3 linked regions of the Homo sapiens genome follow. The protein of the gene in region 3 interacts with the protein of the main gene of each other region in a pairwise test. Each region holds a gene or a part of one and is shown on either strand. Other genes may lie near its edges.

Region 1 (7,025 bases), on a different chromosome or scaffold from region 3:
TTCCCAAAATGATTCAGGTATACATTTGTATATTGTGTTGACTAATAACTAAAACTTACTAAATTCTGTGTACTTTATAAATACATGTACAAACTAGTTTTTTCACAAAAATCCTATAAGATAGACATTATTATCTCCCTTTTACAGAAAAAGAATCTGACAAGAAAGAAGTTAGGTAGCTTATTCAAGATCACTCTAATGGCAGACAGAATAGGGATATAACCCAGGTGGTCTGACTTCAATGTCCCAGTCAGGGCTAGAGAGTGAATGTCTCTGCATTCTGTACCCCAGGACCCTCACTTGCCTCCCTTTAATCCCAGTACTAGTCCAAATTCCTAGTCTCTAAACTAGACTGCTGCTATCAGAGCAGGTCACCGACCATCAAAACCATCTCAGGTGCCATTCACCAACAACCCAAGATCTAGTCAAAACTCTGTTACCTTCCTGCTTACTGCTAAGTACTGTATATGTCACATAGAGGCAAAAGGGCTAGGTTCATGGCTCTACCATTTATTAGCTAAACGACCTTGTCAAAGCACATTCCAAGTCTACTTTCTCACCTATAAAATGTGATGAGACCTACTGCTCCCCAAGTTAATCCCCTTATCACTCCCCTACTGTTAATCCCCAAGACCATGGAGAAAATGTCTCCAGGCCACATCAGAGACCTTCACTGCAGCCCGTCACATCACAAGCCCAGAGGTTAGGTGGCTAAACCTGGCAACATGGTGGGCTAGAAATTCTGAAGGATTCTCCTACTTTCACAAAACATCTAGCTCCTGGATAAAATATATTACACTTCTAGGTTCCCAAGAAATAATGCTGTAGAAACAGAGCTTTCCCTAAGAATAAATGAAATGAAATAGTAGATTATTATTCAACTTATGGTCCAAATATTTACACATAATTAGAGTGTATCAAGTACTTTATATATATATATATATATATATATATATATATAACTAGAGTATATTTAGAATAGTGGTTCTCAGCCAGAGGTGATTTTGGCCCCCGGCGACATCTGGCAATGTCTAGAGACATTTTTGGTTACAACTGAAGAGTGCTACTGGCATCTAGTGGGCAGAGGCCAGTTGTGCTGCTAACATTCTACAATCAATAGGACAGCCCCTGCAACAAAGAATTAACCAGTGCAAAATGTCAATAATGCCAGTGTTGAGAAATCTGAACCAGAGGCAGATAAACTGAATTTCAGATATACTTCCAATTGAGGCAACTCTTCTCATTTGTTTTATTAAAAAGAGAGAAAATGTTTTATATCTCCCACAGTACTTGACATTTGGACATAGGTAGGTTGGAAAATCTAGAAATCAGGTTGATTTTATCATTCACTTTGAAGAGAATTTCTACAGTGTCATTCCCACCCACAGACACTCACCAATCCAAAACACATTTACATTCGAATATAGATTTACTGAAAACCAGGGCTGTATTTTATTGTGTTTTTTCTACCTCTCACAGTTTACACATTAAAGTAGGCCTGCAGTGTTTCAAAAGATAACCTCAAAGATTGGGTTGAAATATTCTTATCATCTCCCTTTCTGCTTACCTCATTAACCCTCAAATTACATGCATTCTCATCATTCATCTTTGTTCTCAATCTAATTCACCACTGCCTCCTTTACAGCCTTATACAAGCTTTTGATAAGTTTGTAAAATGGCCCCAGAAAGTAGGGAGAGGGGCTAGAGCTAATGACAGGCTTTCTAAACCATAAAATATGAAATTAAAGTTCGTTTTATTAAGCAAGAATGTCTAAACCTGAGCAGTCCAATATGGCAGCAACTAGCCATATGTAGTGATTTAAGTTTAGATTAATAAAAATTCAGTTCCTCAGTTCCACCAACCACATTTTGAGTGCTTAATAAGCACATGTGGCTAGTGGCTACCATACTGAAGAGCACAGGTACAGAACACTTTCATCACTGCAGAAAGTTCTATTGGACAATGCTGGCTGTCCAGCTGTTAAATCTAGGGCATATTCTAGAAATTCTAATGAGATCCTGAAGAAATTCAGTGCAGAGAATTAAAATAACAAACTCATTTTAGTCTAACCGTTTTATTTTTAACTCCAATACAACCCAGATAGAAGAGTATGGCCCATTTAAAAACAACAAGAATATTACACTATTTTGTTCAGTTAGATTCAGGTGCCGTATCTATTATCAAACACTTCAATCAAATACTTACTGAATGCCAACCACATATGCCCAGACATCGTGGTAGAAGCTGGGGATTCAAAATTGAGTAGGTCACATTTTTTGTCATTTAAAAACTAACCATTAAACTAAAAATCAGTGTGTTACCTATAAAATATGTACTAAAAAAGTCATATATAACAAAAATGGAGGTGGAAACATTTGGTCTCAAAGATGCTCATTCTCTTCGAGAGAATGTCTTGATTCTACTATTAACGATAGGGAAAATTCTCCAGATTTTCATTGTGAAAAGCGAGAGTAGATAACAATCTAGACTGACCACTAGTTTGACCTAGAGAAAATTACCTAACATCTTTAGAACTGATTTTCTACACCTAAAAATGCTGCATCTTCTATACAAGGTCACAAAACTACAAGGACAACCATTATAAAAGTATAACATAAATTGCAAAAAACTCATTCCACGTTACACTAAGGAATCAAAAGAAGCTTGTTTTCTTATTATTCACATCCCTCAGTTACTTCATGCTACTTGAACAATTTATATTGTTCTTCTTCCAACTCATGTCTCGGAATTAGCACTCTTACACTTGTATTTTTAGATACCTACTCTTCACTATTAGTAACCTGTAATTTTTCTCAAGGTAAATAAATATTTGCTCATCTGTTTCACACCTATATATTTTTCCTACCTCACACAGGAAATATTTTTGGGTTTTTCTGTTTTTTTTTTTTTTGAGACAGAGTCTTGATCTGTCACCCAGGCTGCAGTGTAGTGGCATGATCTCGGCTCACTGCAACCCCCGCCTCCTGGGTTCAAGCCATTCTCCTGCCTCAGCCTCCCCAGTAGCTGGGATTACAGGCACGCACCACCATGCCCAGCTAATTTTTGTATTTTTAGTAGACATAGGGTTTCACCATGTTGGCCAGGCTGGTCTCAAACTCCTCACACAGGAATATTCTTATTGAAAATTCTAGAGAAGTTTCCTGTAGATACCTATTAATAAATACGCCAAGACCTACCTCATCACCGCAATCAAGGTAAGATTTGCAACTGGTTGCCAAGTTGCAGCCTCGACACCTATGCTGAATGGATGAGACCACAACAAATGTTCCTTAACATTTATTAACTGTGATTATTTATTTGTACATAGATTTAAAGGAGCCTAATAATCAACTTCTAAACCAGCAGTTCTAAAACTCTTTCATCTCAGGACGATTTATCAAATTACTGAGACCCGGCCGGGAGCGGTGGCTCATGTCTGTAATCCCAGCACTTTGGGAGGCCGAGGTGGGGGGATCACAAGGTCAGGAGATCGAGACCATCCTGGCTAACACGGTGAAACCCCATCTCTACTAAAAATACAAAAAAATTAGCCAGGCGTCGTGGCGGGCGCCTGTAGTCCCAGCTACTTGGGAGGCTGAGGCAGGAGAATGGCATGAACCAGGGAGGCAAAGCTTGCAGTGAGCCAAGATAGCACCACTGCACTCCAGCCTGGGTGACAGAGCGAAACTCCGTCTCAAAAAAAAAAAAAAATTACTGAGACCCTCAAAGAGCTTTTCTGTATGTGAATTACATCCACCTATATTTATACTAATAGAAATTATAACAAATTTTTAATTTTCACTAATTTGTTTAGAAATAATGGATCCATTATATGTTAACATAAATAACATTTTTCTGAAAATAGCCATATTTTAGTAAATAAAATTGAGTGAGAATGACAAATGACTTAAAGGAAAATAGCTAGATTCTCGTATCTGACCCTGTTTTTGCTTTGTTTTGGTGGAGGTGTACAAAGAAAATCTGCCTTCCTACAATTAAGTAGTTGGGAAAAGAAAAGGTACTTTTAAGTGACAGTTTCTTAATAGTTAGTTACAATGCAGAATATGAAACCATATAACTGTGAACTTTTCATACTTTTAAAGTCCATTAATTTATCTTGCATTTTGAATGAATTTTCCAACATTATGCATTGGATATTCAGAAAATACAAGTTCAGTGAATTATATGGATCTTTCAACTGTAAACACACTTCATTACGGAATATCAAACAATCAAATTTCTTAATATCAACATTGAGTCCTCATCTTTTTAATATTCAGTTTGTCAGAAATGAGAAGTATACATAAAGCATTTCTGCTGCTTATTTACAGTTATCTCAAGGAAAAGCACCTGTGCACTTGAATTGTGAATTTAACTGGTCACTTTTCTCACAGAATACAACTTTTACTTGAAAGAATGACGGGCAAACTATGATTTTCCAGACTTAAGCATTTAGTCAACCTTGTGGACCCCCTGAAAGAACCCTTGGGGAGAATCCAGGGCTCCATGAACTATACCTTGAGAACCACTATTCTAATCAACAGGGCAAAAATATTCCACAATTTCATGAGTCATTACAATGCAAGGAAAACACAACTGCTAATAAAAAAAATCTAAATATTTCCACTTGAATCCAAGATACAGAAAACCAGCTCTCAATGTAAAATATATTCAAAACATTCGGCCTACATAAAGGGTCTACTTCAAGAACCTAAAATTCTTTTATCAAGCACTTAATCCCTACAACTTAAAACACACTTTAGAATACAGGTACATTAAGACCATTAAAAAAAGATAAGATTAAGGCTGGGCGCTGTGGCTCACACCCATAATCCTATCACTTTGGGAGGCCGAGGCGGGAGGATCACTTGCAGCCAGGAGTTCGAAAGCAGCCTTGACAACATGGTGAAAACCATCTCTACCAAAAATACAAAAATTAGCCAGGCATGCTGGCATGTGCCTGTAGTCCCAGGGGTGGGAGGATGGTTTGAGTCTGGGAGGCAGAGGTTGCAGTAAGTCCAGATTGTGCCACTGCACTCCAGCCTGGGCGACAGAGCCCGACCCTGTCTCAAAAATAAAAAACGAAAAAAGAAAGCAACAAAATTCTTCCAGACATGTCAAGTAATTAGACCATAAAATGTAGAATGTTAACTATCCAATAATAACTGCTAATGCTACTATCAAGCATTGTGCTAAGATTTTATATGGTTATTCCATTTAATCCTCAAAACAAACCTATAAGGTAAGTACTACCAATTTCCATCTTACGTATAAGAAAACTGAAATATAAATGTAGCTTGCCTAAGGTCAGAGGAAGAATGCATGGCAGAGTTGGGATTTAAAACCAGCACACTTCACTCAACTATACGTTCATCCTATAGAAAAATTACAGATTCATCTCCGGCTAAAGAAAATGTTTTGTGGGGGAAAAGTAGGAATATTTTAAAAAAAAGACAAACTCACAGTTTTTAGTTCCATCAGTACTTGTTCATCCACTCCATCATCCAGAAAGATGTCTCTCACATCATTAATGACATCTTCAATCACAGATCTGTATAATTTAGGCTTTAAAGGAAAAATAAAAGACTTGAAAAAGACAGTTTTTCACAGCTTATAATGTATAACAGGTTTTCACAAATTCAAAACGAATAGTCATTTTGCCAACTATCTATATATGACTTTAAAGATACGACCACCATCATTTGCCATAAACTGGATTTGATGACTGCACACTTTAATAAAAATTTTAAGATTAATGCAGTTCATAAACAGAAGGCCCCTAAGACTACAAGGTCCATACAATTTCCAATTATAATTTCCTATGTTGTAGTCAAAATACCTAATGTAATGTTCAATAATAGCTTTACGGGTTGCTTATGTCTGGCTTCTACTATTCCATGCTTGGTTTGAACTCTGTTGTATGTCTTACTACCTCACCACTGTATCTTAGACTTTGGAGAATCTTATGTCCGGGAGTCATCTGCCTGGTAATAATCTGCAACCTAATGAACATTCAGGTTTAAAAATCACCTAACTTCTGTTGTGTGACCCAGTCTGTACTTTCAAGCTGTACCATTAAACTACTCATACACTCACAATGGCAGGTCTTAAGGTCCCAAGGAACAAGGTATACTGATTTCCTTCCCAGGATTTCTCCTCTACTACTGCCCAGGTAATGCTATGAAACATTATAATGAACATGAACCCTCTAAATGTTTACTATTATTATTACAATTAGCACCGTTGATACTACTTGGAGGAGCGGGAAGTAAAGAAGCTGGCTTCTAGAAGGTTGAATGGTAAAATGAGTAAAATGAGAATAGATGTGAAAGAACTTTCAAAAAGTATAAAATATTTTTTAAAAACTACAAAGTGGGAGATAGAACAATTAGCCCAATCCACATCCTATTTTTTCCCCCACATCCTATTTTTAACCTGTTAGACAAAAGGAAGTCATGTCAGATGACAAAACTAGAGCTGCCTTGACAAAACTAGAGTTGCCTGGTTATAAATCCTCCCCATTATCAGAGGGTTATGGTTAACAAGCTTTTTAGATGTTTTCTCATTACTTCTGTTTCATACCTTGCTTAAGGTTAATCGCTATCAAATAAAACCAATTTTGGGAGGATCGCTTGAGCTCAAGAGTTCAAGACCAGCCTGGGTAACATAGTGAAACCCAATCTCCACAAAAAATTAGCCAGGAGTGGTGGCACGTGCCTGTAGTCCCAGCTGCTTGGGAGGCTGAGGTGGGAGGATGGCTTGAGCCCAGGAGGGAGAGGGTGCAGTGAGCCAAGATTGCACCACTGCCCTCCAGCCTGGGTGACAGGCCCAGACCCTGTCTCAGAAAACAAACAAATACAAATGAGTTTGTCAATACAATTTACCTCAACCATTAAATACTATTTAATCCTTCTCATTACAAGAAAACCAATTCAAATATCTGGGTTCTTGCTTTACTGTTCACTCACTAACCTGCTTTATTTTGCCAAATCCGCCTCTTGAAGTTTATTCATCTGTAAAATGC
Region 2 (7,025 bases), on a different chromosome or scaffold from region 3:
CATTTGTGGAGCTTCATGCCTGGAGGGCAAGGGAAAGTCAGTGAGAAGCATCCAGACCTTCACCCCGCAACAGTGCCCTGCGCTGGGAATAAAATCCAGGCTCTTTCCCCACCAGCACCTGTGTGATCTGGCCCCAGCTCTCTCCACCCTCGTCGTCTGCCTTCTTCCAGCCACTCTCTGCGCCAGCCACACTCGCTCTCCTCAGAGATGCCACGCTGGCTCCTCCCTCTGCGCCTTTGTACTTGCCATTCTCCTCTGCCTGGAACAGCTGCTCACTCTCTGCACCTTGGCTCGCTTTGCCAGGTCATCTCAGGCTCAGGGAGGGGCCGTGACGCCTGAGGCCACCCACAGGAACATGGCAGCACTAAGACTCCAACCCAGCCCTGTGTGTCCAAGTCATTGACCTACTCTCCCAGTTTTCACACTTTCTTTAGTGACTGACTCCTTTCTGTAAACCTTCTCAAACAAGGGAGACTTTACCCCCCAGAGGACTCAGCAATGCCTAGAGACATTTTTGGTTGTCACAACTGTGGGGGGATGCCACTGACACCAGTAGATAGAAGCCAGGGATACTGCTAAAAATCCTACAGGGCACAGGACAGCCCCCAGGACAAAATTATCTACAGGATTACAGGCCAGGCGCCGGTGGCTCACACCTGTAATCCCAGCACCTTGGGAGGCCAAGGCGGGCAGATCACTTGAGGTCAGGAGTTCGACACCAGCCTAGCCAACATGGTGAAAACCCCATGTCTACTAAAAATACAAAAATTAGCTGGGTGTGGTGGCAGGCACCTGTAATCCCAACTACTTGGGAAGCTGAGGCAAGAGAATCGCTTGAACCTGGGAGGCAGAGGTTGCAATGAGCCAAGATCACACCACTGCACTCCACCTGGGTGACAGAGGGAGGCTCCGTCTCAAAAAAAAAAAAAAAAAATTATCTGGCCCAAATTGTCAATGGTGCCAGGGTTGAAGAACCTTGTTTTAGACCTCGGCTGGCATGTGGAAAGCCAGCCAGGCTGCTCTGAGGAGGCGCTGAGAAACTGAGGAGTGGCTTGGAGACCCCTGCCCTGCCCTATCAAAGAAGCTTCCTGGCCATGTCTTGGACCTGGCTGGAATCTGATTCCCTCCACACCTCGTCCACACCTCTATTACACTGGGCACTGCTCCAACTGAGTCATCTCTGCTCAGGTCAGCTTCCTCCTTGGACTGGGGGACTGTGTCTGATTCATCTCTGTTCACCCTTAAGTCCCTAACACAGGCCTGGCTCATAGCCCACATAAGTGAAAGTGCTGGCTGGAATGTGCCAGGCAGGGAAAACAAGCCTCACAGGATATGTCTGCTCTTTCTCTTCCTGGCGGGTCTATCCCAGTGAACTAGAGCTGAACCAGACCCTCTTAGCAGGCCCAAGAGCCACTTACCAGAGTGGGAGAGGATGTGGGCCTTCAGCTTGTCCGGCCGGTTGAACTCCTTACTGCAGCCTGTGTGCGTCCTAAAACCCAAAGCCACTGGTCAGGGGGAGCTCACCAAGCTTAGGATCCTCTTGCTGGCCCCTCCACTAGCCCTGGGCACAAGGGACAGCCTTGTCCACCCTAAGGGCTGGGCAAGGAGGTAGGGTGGGAAGTGAGGCAGGCAGGGCCCAGGACAGGATAAAAGGAGAGAGGCCTGGCCAGGCACAGTGGCTCACGCCTGTAATCTCAGCACTTTGGGAGGCCGAGGTGGATGGATCACTTGCGGTCAGGAGCTCGAGACCAGCCTAGGCAACATGGCGAAACTCCATCTCTACTAAATCTGTAATCTCAGCTACTTGGGAAGCCGAGGCAAGAGAATCGCTTGAACCCAGAAGGCAGAGGTTGCAGTGAGACAAGATCTTACCACTGCACTCCAGCCTGGATGACAGAGTGAGACTATGTCTCCAAAAAAAAAAAAAAGGAGAGGCCTGCCCTCAGGCCTGACATCTGTCCCACCCTCCCCAGCAGCACCCCTGGAGAATCTGTCCCGCTACCCACCCCCCTGCATGGCAGTCTCTACTCACGAGAAAGGGCATTTGTATTTCTTGAAGGGCTCGTGGATCAACATGTGTCTCTTCAGTTTGTCCTTGCGGTTGAACGCAGACTCGCACACTGAGCATTTGTAGGGCTTCTCACCTGCAGCAGACACAGACAGGGAGAGCCAGCACTCACCAGGAGTCGGCATCCAGGGCACAAGGGTCCCCGCTGGGCCCCTCAGGGGAGCAGCTCCTCTAGGGAGGTGGCCAGGGGAGAAAATAGCCTCTCTCATTCTTCAGTGGCTTTGTTTTGCCAGAGACAAGACAGGGCTATTTTGACAGGATGGTCAGGAGAGGCCTCTCTGATGAGGCCATGCATGAGGAGAGACCTCAGGTCATCAGGGAGATGGTCTGGGCAGCAGGGAAAGCAGGTACAAAGGCCCTGAGGCAGGAGTGCGTTTGGCGGTGCTGATGAACAACAGGGAGGCTGGTGTGGCCAGAGAACAAGGCAGAAGGTGAGGGCAGCGAGCCAGCCAGGTCCGCATGGGAGGACCTGGGAGGCAGAGCTAAGGACTTGGCTTTTATTTATTTATTTTTTTTGAGACAGAGCCTTGCTCTGTCACCCAGGCTGGAGTGCAGTGGCAAGATTTCAGGTGAGTCACTGCAACCTCTGCCTTCTGGGTTCAAGCAATCCTCCTACCTCAGCCTCCTGAGTAGATGGGATTACAGGTGTGTGCCACCACGCCCAGCTAATTTTTGTATTTTTAGTAGAGATGGGGGGTTTCACCATGTTGGCCAGGCTGGTCTCGAACTCCTGACCTCAAGTGATCCACCTGCCTTGGCCTCCCAAAGTGCTGGGATTACAGGCATGAGCCACCGCGCCCAGCCAGGACTTTGGCTTTTACTCTGAGCCAGAAGAGAAGCACCAGAAGGTCTGAACAGCAGAGGGATGGACTCTGATGTAAGCTTTTAACCAGCTCGAATGAGGGTGGAGGTGAGGATAACCAGGAAGTGGCCCAGGACAGCCATGTTGGGAAGGCACAGTCGGCAGCCCTTGCCACTGGACTGGCTGTGACTGTGAGAGGAGGAGAGGAGTCAAGGATGAGGCACGGCCTGAGAAGCAAGGTGGCCTCATGTCATTTCTGGCAATGCGGTCCACCCTGGGGGACGAGGAATCACACCTTATCTAACTGAATCCTTCCAAAAAACCAGGAGGCACTGACTCCCATCATCCCTGTTTCACAGATAAGAAAGAAGACTGAAGTTCAGAGAGGTGAAGGGACTGGCTCAGGGGCTACCCCTATGGTTGCGGGAGCTAAGATTCCAGCCCAGCAGCGTGATCCAGAGCCCATCTGAGCTACCCAGATCTTCCTGCTGTTAAACCCGTCCTGGGGCAGCTCTTGCCTGATGGGCTACCTGAGGAACCCACAGGAAATCAAGGGAGGTGCCTGCAAAGTTGCCGTGGGGTCACAGCCTGCCCTTTGGAAGGGGCTGTTTCTGGGCTGCTGTGACTTCCTGCCATTATTTCCTCTCTGTTCTCCCTCTGGAATGAATAAAGTACTTCTGAAAAACCATCAACCCAGTCGATACGGAAATGCTGGTCCCTACAATAGAATGCTCTGTGGTCATTAAAAAGATTAAAAAGGTCAATCTGTGTTTCCTGATCTGGAAAGATCTCCTGGACATACTGCTAGTGGGGAAAGAAAGCAGTAGAACAGCTTAACACAATCTCGTCTTTCTTAGAAAAAAATATAATCCCTACTGGATATGTAAGCTCCAACAAAAAAAAAAGAAAGAAAAAATACAACCTGCACACCCCAAAAAAGCCCTGGCCATGTGTCTCTGTAAATAAACTGAAGATGCAGGAAGAAAGATGGGGAGGTGTAGGGAAAGGACAGACCAAAGTGTCAGTGGCAACTACAACTTGAAGGGGAAATTTAACATTTTACTTTATGTACTCCTATATTGTTTCCATTTTTATAATAACCATGTATTATTTGTGTGGTTTTTTTTGTTTTGTTTTGTTTCGTTTTTTGTATTTTTTTTTTTTTTTTTGAAACAGAGTCTTGCTCTGTTGCCCAGGCTGGAGTGCAGTGGTTTGATCTTGGCTCACTGCAACCTCCATCTCCTGGGTTCAGGCAATTCTCCTGCCTCAGCCTCCTGAGTAGCTGGGATCACAGGTGCGTACCACCACACCCGGCTAATTTTTGTATTTTTAGTAGAGACGGGGTTTCATCACGTTGGCCAGGCTGGTCTCAAACTCTTGACCTAGGTGCTCCACCCACCTTCACCTTCCAAAGTGCTGAGATTACAGGCATGAGCCACCGCGCCTGGCAGCATGTATTACTTTTGAATAATAATTTTTAAAAGCCATAAAGAGCAATTTGGTAATATCAAACTTACAATGCATTACTTCTTTTCCCTTCTTTATTGTGGAGAAATATACATAACAGAAAATTGACCATCTTAAGCTTCTTTTAAGTGTATAGTTCAGTGGCATAAGTACATTTGCACCATCATGCAACCATCACCATCATCTGTCTCTAGAATTTTTTCATCATCCCAAACTGAAACTCAGTATTACACATGCATTTTAACCTAGCATTTCCACTCCTAAGAATATACACTACAGATACACTTCCAAAAGCTTGCCAAGGGACCCACACAGCATTGTGTGTACAAACTAATAGCTGAAATGTAATTTAACGGTTCATACATAGGCTGGGCGTGATGGCTCATGCCTGTAATCCCAGCACTTTGGGAGGCTGGGGCGGGGGGATCACTTGAGGTCAGGAGTTCGAGACCAGCCTGGCCAACATGGTGAAACCACATATCTACTAAAAATACAAAAATTAGCTGGGCGTGATGGTGCACACCTGTAATCCCAGCTACTTGGAAGGCTAAGGCAGGAGAATTGCTTGAACTCAGGCGGCAGAGGTTGCAGTGAACCAAGATCGTGCCATTCAGTCTCAAAAAAAAAAAAAAAAAAAAAAAAGGTTCATACATAGAGAACTGGCTAAATACAAGATGAAAAATTCATTGAGGAAGACTACTCAGATGTGAAAAAGAAGGTGCTGTTGGTAACAACTTCTGGGGGGGGCCCGGGGGAGGGGGACCCACAGAATTTAGCCTCCAGGGGAACTGTAAGCACACATTCCTTGGGGAACATCGCCAAGGTATATGATAAGGAAAAAAAGGCACATAAGTTATAGTATGTGCTCATTTTTGCAAACGTAAGCAAGCGTTTTATATATGTGTAAAATAAAACTAGAAGAATGCAGACTAGACCGCTAACAGTTACCTTTGGGGAAGAGAATTAGGAGTATTTTGCAAACTGCAAACCACAAGTTACACCCTGTTGGTGGTTATTTTAAGAATTAAAAATAGGCTGGGTGTGGTGGCTTGCATCTGTAATCCCAGCACTTTGAGAGGCCAAGGTGGGTGGGTAACCTGAGGCCAGGAGTTTGAGACCATCTTGGCCAACATGGTGAAACCCCGTCTCTACTGAAAATACAGAAATTAGCCAGGCATGTGGTGGGCGCCTGTAATCCCAGCTACTCGGGAGGCTGAGGCACGAGAATGGCTTGAACCTGGGAGGCGGAGGTTGTAGTGAGATCATACCATTGCACTCCAGCCTGGGTGACAGAGTGAGACCCTGTCTCAAAATAAAAATAAAAAATAAAAAAACTAAAATTGAAAAGGACAAAATAGAAAACACTGTTTTGTAAAACTTTTGTTGCAATACATCCTATGTGTGCTTCCTGGGTTGCAATATGAAATGTATTTTTTACCATAGGTCGTAGGAAAGAAAAAAAAGGAAAAACATTGGATTGTCCATCTGAAGTGAGAGGGAGTTTATTTTTTTATATATGCTTTTGTCCCGTCAAGGATTTTCCCTCAAGTTTTCTCAATCTTTAGATCCTTTTCAATTAAAAAGCAATTAAAAAATTTAACTAATAAAAAAATCTAAAGATTAATAGAAAAGAAAATGTCAGTGTGTTTCAACTGGGGAACCAAGGAGATGGCGTTTTGTTCAGGTTTGAGTGGGAACTTACAGTGAGAGCAGTGTCCCCACCACAGGGGGCAGAGTCAAGAGTCCCTCACACAGGCTGGGTGCAGTGCCTCACGCCTGTCATCCCAGCACTTTGGGAGGCCGAGGCAGGAGGATCACCTGAGGTCAGGAGTTCGAAACCAGCCTGGCCAACATGGCAAAACCCTGTTTCTACTAAAAATACAAAAAACTAGCTGGACATGGTGGTGGGAGCCTGTAATCCCAGCTACTCAGGAGGCTGAGGCAGGAGAATCACTTGAACCCGGGAGGCAGAGGTTGCAGTGAGCCAAGATCTGCCACCGCACTCCAGCCTGGGCAACAAGAGCGAGACTTTGTCTCAAAGAAAAAAAAAAAAAGAATAAAAAGTCCCTTCCACACAACCTCCAGGGGCTCTTCTCTGCTTTAGCGGTGGTGGGAATCCCTTGTTCATGAATTAAGGCAGGTGGATCAGGGGCCAGGAAGGAGAGAGGAAGGAGGAGCAAGGGGAGAGGCAGGAGGGCTGGAGGGAGACAGACAGCGACAGAGAGGAGGGGGAGGGGGCTGGAGGGAGAGGGGAGAGGACAGGGGAGGGAGGCTGGAGGGGGCTAGAAGGAGATGGGGAGAGGGAGGGGAAGGGAGGCTAGAGGGAGATGGGAAGGAGGAGGGAGAAGGGGGCTGCAGGGAGATGGGGAAGAAGAGGGAGATGGGGAGGGTGAGGGAGATGGGGGGGAGAGAGATGGAGAGAGGGAGGGAGATGGGGGAGGGGGAAGGAGATGGGGAGAGGGAGGGAGGTGAGGAGGCGGAGGGAGGGGGGAGGGAGAGGAGTAGGGAGAGGGAGAGGGGAAAGGAAATGGGGAAGAGGAGGGAGAAGGGTGCTGGAGGGAGATGGGGAGGAGGAAGGAGATGGGGAGGAGGAGGGAGATGGGGAGGAGGAGGGAGACGGGGGCTGAGAGAGATGAGGGGAGGGACTGAGTGAGATGGGGAGGGAGATGGAGAAGTGGAGGGAAAAGG
Region 3 (7,025 bases):
TGCTGGATGTGATAAACCAGGATGGGACTCAGGTCTTCCAATCTCCAAACCTACCATGCTTTATTCTACCTCACTGGATTTTCCCTTAGGAAGGTGCTGGATTCGGGACAGGAGGAACATGGCCACCACAGCTGGAGCTCGCCCCTGACTCCCAGAGCTCTCTGGGTCTTTCACGCCCCCCACACTCTCTGCAGCCTGCTGTCCCCAGCACAGACAACACTAAGGTGAAGAGGCATCTTTCCTACCTGCCTGGCCCCAATTATGTTCTTTCCCAAACTTATTATTGCCACTTGTCCTTGTAATTTGGATATTCCATAAGCTGTTAAACATGAGTGCCACGAAGTCTGAGGTAAGCTGAATCTTTAGAAAGACTCGATAAAGGAAAGGGAATGGTTACAAGAGCTGCTGCGGCATTTGGTGTGGTGGATTCAACCGTAAGGGACTGGGTCATGAAGCGTTAAAAACCAGGCTTCTGCTCTCAAATCGCTTAGGAAGTGTTTGAAGTGTCCAAGCCTCCATGCAGAAGTCACAGAAGTGGTACAGAAGTGTGCTTAATGCAAGGGGGAAAATGAGGACTCCAGTCAGTCAGACCCAAATCTGAAAAGACCTTAGCCTACAGCACAAGATTTCTATGACTTAAGGGCTAATATTACTTGCTTTAAGTTAAAATTAAGTGTTACGGCGTGCGTGCGTGTTTTTATGATTCTTCGCTGTAACTGACTTCTTTGATGATCTGACCAGCTGCTGGTCCCCAGTGAGCTGGATAAGAGGCAGCCATATCTAATCCACTCAAGATGACTGACCCACCCAGGTCTCCATCGGGGAGTGTCCAAGGTGAGCCTCGGCGACTTGTGCTAGAATAAGGTGCTCAAGTGTGAGTGCGCTCCCAGCAAATGGATGCAGAAGCCAGCTTGAAGGGGTTTCCAGGTTGGCCAAATTTGGAACAATTTGTGTATCAAAAGAAGTAAATAACAAAAAAAGGACTAAAATGGATTATAACATTAGTTTCAAAATCCTTGAGCCCATAGCGATTAAGAAAAAAAAAAAAGAGAGAGAGAAGAAAGTGAAAAGAAAGCTCTGCTTTACAGAAAAATGTCAGCTAACAATGTAGAAGAATTTCTACTCAACTGAGTACTTCAGGCAAGGGTGATCAACACATGCTAAACCACTGGGTGAGTGACTGTCAGTAAACAGGATATTCACATTGTGCTGAAGTATCACCCCAAATACTAACAAGAGAGGAGGAAATGAACCCTTATGGTAGAGAGATCAGCTGTAGCATCACTAAGAGGAGGTGATAATAATCTTACAGATACAATCTGCCATCACATGCTTTCTGATGTAGAGACCTGCCAAAAACATTCGTGCCAAAAACATTTAACTTGAACCTAATCAAGCCTCTCCACCTAACTTCTGGTTTCCAGGAAATACAAGGAATACAGAGAAATGTTCAACGCTGTCATGAGGAAAAAAGCAAACAAACCAGAATGGGGCATCCTATAACCCACTGCCTGGACTCTTCAAAATGGAACTTCAACATGGAACAAAATATAGGTGGAAAGATTTGTAAATTCCAAGAGACAGAATCAAATGTAACGCAAGACACCTGATTCCATCCTGGTATATAAAACCCAGTAGGTATCAAAACCCAGTAGGTAGCAAAATACCAACTCTATAAAAGACATTTGGGGACTAATTGGGGAAATTTGAATATGGATTGAATATGAGATGATGGATAGAAACAGTATTAACTGTTGAGGTGGGATAATGGTATTGTGGTTGGAAACACAATGTATTCCTTAGGAGACACGTGCTGAGGTCTTCAGGGATGAAGGGCCAGGATGCCTGCTACTTATATTCAAATGGTTCAGTAATAGGTAAAGATAAAGCAAATGTGGCAAAAGTATTAACAAATGTTGAATCTAGGTGGAGATACACAGGTATTCATGTTAACATTCTTTCAGCCAGATGCTGTGGCTCATGTCTGCAATCCCAGCACTTTGGGAGGCTAAGCCTGAGCCCAGGAGTTCAAGACCAGCCTGGGCAAAATAGCGAGATCGCACTTCTAAAAAATTTTTTTCTTTTAATTTTCTCTATGTCTAAAAATTATCAAAATAAGTTGAGAAAACAAAAACAAAATTTTAAAAATAATGAAAACTTGAAGTTTGCTCACGCTAAGCAAGCCCTGACTTCCCAGTTTACCAAAATTAAAAAGGGGTTAAAAAGTGATTGATTTAGCTGGGTGTGGTGGCAGGTACCTGTAATCCTAGCTACTCAGGAGGCTGAAGCAGGAGAATCGCTTGAACCTGGGAGGTGGAGATTGCAGTGAGCTGAGATCATGCCACTACACTCCAGCCTGGGTGACAGTAAGACTCTGTCACACAAAAAAAACAAAAAAACAGCCAACCAACCAAACAAAAAAAAAAAACAAGTGATTGGAAGAATAGGGAAAAAAAATAGATAATTGCCCACATTTGCCCCTTTAATCAGCTGAACATGAGATGACACAGAATGTTCACACAGAAGCTCTTGGTGAAAGGAATGCCATTCTCCAGCTACACGGGCACCAGCCCCCAAACCTGGAATTTAAAGGTTCTACTCCTGAAGATACAATGGGCTGGTTCTGTAGTTTTCAAAGGGCCATAGCCTATTACTCACAGGGTTCTCCTTACAGTCTTCGCTCAGCATCTCTGGAGCGATCCAGCCTTCTGTGCCAGGCACCCCAGATCGGCGGCTGAAACTGTGTCTGCCCACTGCCAGCTTCTTGCAGAGGCCAAAGTCGGAGATCATGGCCTTGATCTTGCCGTGTGCATTGGGCATGGATATGAGGATGTTGTGTGGCTTTAGGTCTCTGTGAACTAACAGAGAACTCCAGATTAGTCCAATGCTTACCAGGAGCAACCCCAGGCCTCCTCCAATGGGGAATGTGTCCTCGTCAGACTCCCAATATGCCTGCCGCCACCTCCAAATGTTCTGATTTTCAACTATGTCGGATTCCTCCTCAAATTCTTACACCACTCATCTTTGCTACTGGTGATATAGCCAAGAGCTTGAACAGAAGCAAGGCCCACCCGAGCTACTGGTTAGCCCCACCTGGGCCACTGATTCTCCCCACCCGGGCCGCTGGCCTGGTAAAGTGCAGCCTCTCACCGATGTTGAGGGAGTGGAGGTGGGCCAGGCCCGAGGTGGTCTGCTGCAGCAAGGTGATGGGCTCCAGGCCGAGATGCGCAAAGTCCTTCTGCTCCACATACTGCAAAAGACATGACAGCAAGGTCACGGCACACAGTCCTCAGGACTTGGCCCCTCGGCTCACTTTCTTTGATACCATTTTAAGAAAGAAATGGCAAGTTTTACTGACAACATTCTGTCTAAATCCATGTTTTCCAGCAAGGAGCAAACCTCCAAATCTACTAATTTACAATGAGAAAGATAAGAAGGCAAGAAACTCAAGTTCATTGCCTCATATAAGTAAACCTACAAAGGAATCCAAATGATACTGATATGGTTTCAAAGTGAGCCTGGAAAATGAGCAAAAGGAGCTTGCTGGATGATCTTAAAGCCTGGAGTTACCAACTGGCATCCTCCAAGCCCACACCAGCCATGACTGAAGAGGGAAAGAACAACTGTCCAGGTTTCCTGGAGGCAAAGAGGGAGAGACATGCCAACTGCAAGCAGACTGCCCAGGCATGCTGGGGGGACCACCCTGTTACAACCAGAGGGATAAAAATGCTCCACATTTTGACTGTGTATGTGGTTAAATGGGTATAGACATTTGTCAAAATTCATCAAGCTATTACATTTAAAATTAGTACAATTCACTGTAACTTTTTTTTAATTTGACGGGGTCTCACTCTGTTGTCCAGGCTGGAGTGCAGTGGCACAATCACTGCTTACTGCAGCCTTGATCTCCCAGGCTCAAGCAATCTTCCCACCTCAGCCTCCCAAGTAGCTGGGGCTACAGGAACACATCGCTAGGCCTGGCTAATTTTTGGTTTCTTTGTAGAGATGGGGTTTCACCATGTTGTCCAGGCTGGTCTCAAACTCCTGAGCTCACGTGATCTGCTCACTTTGGCCTCCCAAAGTGCTATGACTTTAATAAAGTTAACAAAATAAAAAAAATAAATCCACCTCTTGCAGGGTGGCTGCACACAGCTCGATGGCAATGTACTGGAATTGCCGGTCCTTCTCCGTGCAGAAGTAGCGGATCACGTTCGGGTGCTCATCCGATTCTCGCAACAGCTGGACCTCACGGTCTGCGAAGCTAAAACACTCGGGGAGGATCCTCTTCACGGCCACGTCGCGGTTGTCAAACATGCCCCTGCGGGATGAGGAGTGGGAGTTGTGTCTGGGAAGCACGAGTCAGGCTGTGTAAATGAGGTGAGAACCTGGGTCCACAGCATTCACCTACTGCCTCCCAGCCTAGAGAGCCCCGCCTGACTGCCTGGTGGCCCCGGAATCATCGCTTGTCTCAGTGTGCAAGCTCCCTGGAGGCCGGACTCCATGCGTCTAGGTCACTGCTTTGACCCTGCTGTGCTCTGAGCCTGGCACCAGGCTCGCAACCTGACAGGCACTTAGACACCAGGCGGTGAGGGCAGGGGGCTGGCTAATCCACTCACCGGTACACAATTGTGCCCTCAGCTCCATGGCCCAGGACATCCTTGGGACAGAAGGAAATTTTCCCAACTATCACCACGCTGGTTTCCTCATCTGGGACAAAATAGGAAAAAGAGATTGTTTCAAACAGATATCACCTAAAGAACCTTGAGGTTAACATAGTGACAAGCTTCCTGACCTCAGATTAAAAGATGGGATTTAAGAGGCACTGCACCCCAGACTGCTGCTCAGCAAGAGCCTGCCAGGCCCACTCCCCATGTACACCCAGGACTGCCTCTTCCCCCTGCCCCTGCATTCTGTCTCCGCCTTTACCTTATTGTGCGATTGCATATCTTAAAACCTTCTGGAAGGCAGGGATTCTCCATAGCGTTTCACACACTTATACATATTCATTGTGATATAGTTAGAATGGTTTAATAGTTAACAACCACCACAAAGTCCACTGTAAAGATCCGCACTGAAGCATTCAGGTGGCGGCAATGGACATGTAAAACGAGGAGACTCCTTGGGACAGAGGGCTCTGAGTTCCCTGCACCAGCTCTGTGCCAGTTCCCTCAGAATTGGGGCTCTGACAACTGGCTTGAGCCAACTTCCACAGAGGAAAGCAGACCAACTGTGACACTTCCACACTTGGCCACCGGCTGGCCCTGGGAACTCTCTTCAGCCCAATGGGCAGCTCACCTCTGGTCAGCCGCGACGCCCAGCCCTTGTGGAGAAAGACAGGAGGATGGCCAGGGTGGTTCCCAGAAGGCCCTCTGAAGGGGAGATGCCAAGGGATGGGGCAGAAGCCTTCCCACAGAGACCCCCAGAGTGGAAGTTAGAGGAGAACACAGTGAACCCCTGAGAATGGTAGTTTACAATCTTATGGAGACTCCTTGGACTTCTCAGGAGGTGCTCGAATAAAACATAAAATAGCACCAAGATGGCAACTGGCTTTACCTCCATCGTCTTGTTCCAGGGAGGGGCTGCTGCCAGCCTTGGAGGCAGAGCTGCCGGAGCAGAGCGAGTGGTTGGAGGCCCTGGGGGACGTGCTGGGGCTGCTGGTGCCCGAGCTCTCTGAGTACGGGCCAGACGTGTCCAGGAGCTCGCCGTCCTGAGCCGTGTCTCCAGGTGGGTGGAAGGGCAGCTGCTGCTGCTGCTGCTGCAGGAGCTGGATCTTCTCCAGTTCCTTCTGGAACTGCTGGTGCTGGAGCTGCTGCTGCTGATGCATGCTCTGGGAAGAGAAACCCACATCCAGACAAGGGCAGCTGTTCCCACAGGGAAACAAGCAGCTGGGAAGGGACAGGTCCCAGTGGCGGAGGGAGCATGTGTACTTTATGTGACCCAACAGGGCACAAAGAGACCAGTGAGAAGGCACCTGGAAGCAGAATTGCTTCGATGACTGGACGTCTTTCCACCGACTAGTTAGATCCTTGCTCATACAGCCCACTCCCCAACCCTAGGAGGGGCTGGATGGCCACCAGGGGAGGGACTGTGCCCTAGGTTGAGGGCTGTGCCAGTTTCATTCAGTTCTAAAATTCTGTGATTTTCATGAAAGTCTGAGAGTTGTTGCAAAGGTGAAACCAAACAGGAAGCACAGGTAGCATGGCTGAGCCAGTGGTGGGTGAGAGCAAGCCCCAGGTTCGCCACCCACCGTGTCTGTGTGTTGGCTAGAGGCTAGCGCACAGACACTCAGTAATCCAGAGGGGCAGGTGAGGAAGCTCTAGTATTCTAGGTATGCAGAGTACATCTGCATACACATAGCCAGGAGGTGGCAGTGGGGCTGACACATGGTGAGCCTGGCTGAGGTCCTGCTTCCGCCTTTCATCCCACTGCCTTCCCCGAGGCCACATGCCTCTCAAATACTCTGAAGGATTCATTCTGTCATTATCTGAAGTAGCAGCGATCTGTGATCATCCCTACCCATGTGCAGGAGGTGGACTGAAGGGACTTCTGTGAGCCACCAACCCACCAGGGAGTCGTCTCTTCTTCTCTCCACCATGGGGTGGAGTCCTAGAAATGCCGTCTACTAGCTGGGTACCCGTGGGGAAAGTTACTTAGCTTCTCAGGGTCTACTTCCTTCTTTTGTGGACAAGGGATCAATAATAATGACCTCATAGGACTGAGTGAGGTGAAAAGTGAAACTATCAGGTGCAGACGTGCCAGTGGGGAGTGCCATAAAGAGTCTGTCATTCCCATTCCTGGGCGGGTCATTAGCTTCCTGAGCTCTCAGGTAACAGCATCTCGATGCTCTGAGCAACCTGCTGAAGGACCATGCCCCTCACATATTTCATCCCACCCATGGCCTGTTCTGCTACAGAACTTGCTCATTTCCAACTAGGAAGTAAAGGGATGGCCACACTGCCTTTTTCACACAAGCTGATCTCACAGGCAGCTTCTTTTTTCTTTTTTTGGTTCTTCTCCCCAGCAGA

Evidence for each region. Proteins that work in one complex are often made in the same cells at the same time.
Region 1: the proteins of ERN1 (region 3) and GTF2A1 interact in binary tests that used the Homo sapiens proteins (3 or more experiments, as listed by UniProt).
Region 2: the proteins of ERN1 (region 3) and ZNF341 interact in binary tests that used the Homo sapiens proteins (3 or more experiments, as listed by UniProt).

Annotation. Positions count from the first base shown.
Region 1 is NC_000014.9:81,210,949-81,217,973, forward strand, and holds part of GTF2A1 (transcription initiation factor IIA subunit 1), read right to left. Parts: intron 5,567-7,025; coding exon 5,465-5,566; intron 1-5,464. UniProt on the Homo sapiens protein: TFIIA is a component of the transcription machinery of RNA polymerase II and plays an important role in transcriptional activation. TFIIA in a complex with TBP mediates transcriptional activity.
Region 2 is NC_000020.11:33,783,982-33,791,006, reverse strand, and holds part of ZNF341 (zinc finger protein 341), read right to left. Parts: intron 3,635-7,025; exon of another isoform or gene 3,230-3,634; intron 2,145-3,229; coding exon 2,033-2,144; intron 1,490-2,032; coding exon 1,419-1,489; intron 20-1,418; coding exon 1-19. UniProt on the Homo sapiens protein: Transcriptional activator of STAT3 involved in the regulation of immune homeostasis. Also able to activate STAT1 transcription.
Region 3 is NC_000017.11:64,050,122-64,057,146, forward strand, and holds part of ERN1 (serine/threonine-protein kinase/endoribonuclease IRE1 precursor), read right to left. Parts: intron 5,828-7,025; coding exon 5,554-5,827; intron 4,708-5,553; coding exon 4,617-4,707; intron 4,319-4,616; coding exon 4,129-4,318; intron 3,251-4,128; coding exon 3,151-3,250; intron 2,859-3,150; coding exon 2,659-2,858; intron 1-2,658. UniProt on the Homo sapiens protein: Serine/threonine-protein kinase and endoribonuclease that acts as a key sensor for the endoplasmic reticulum unfolded protein response (UPR).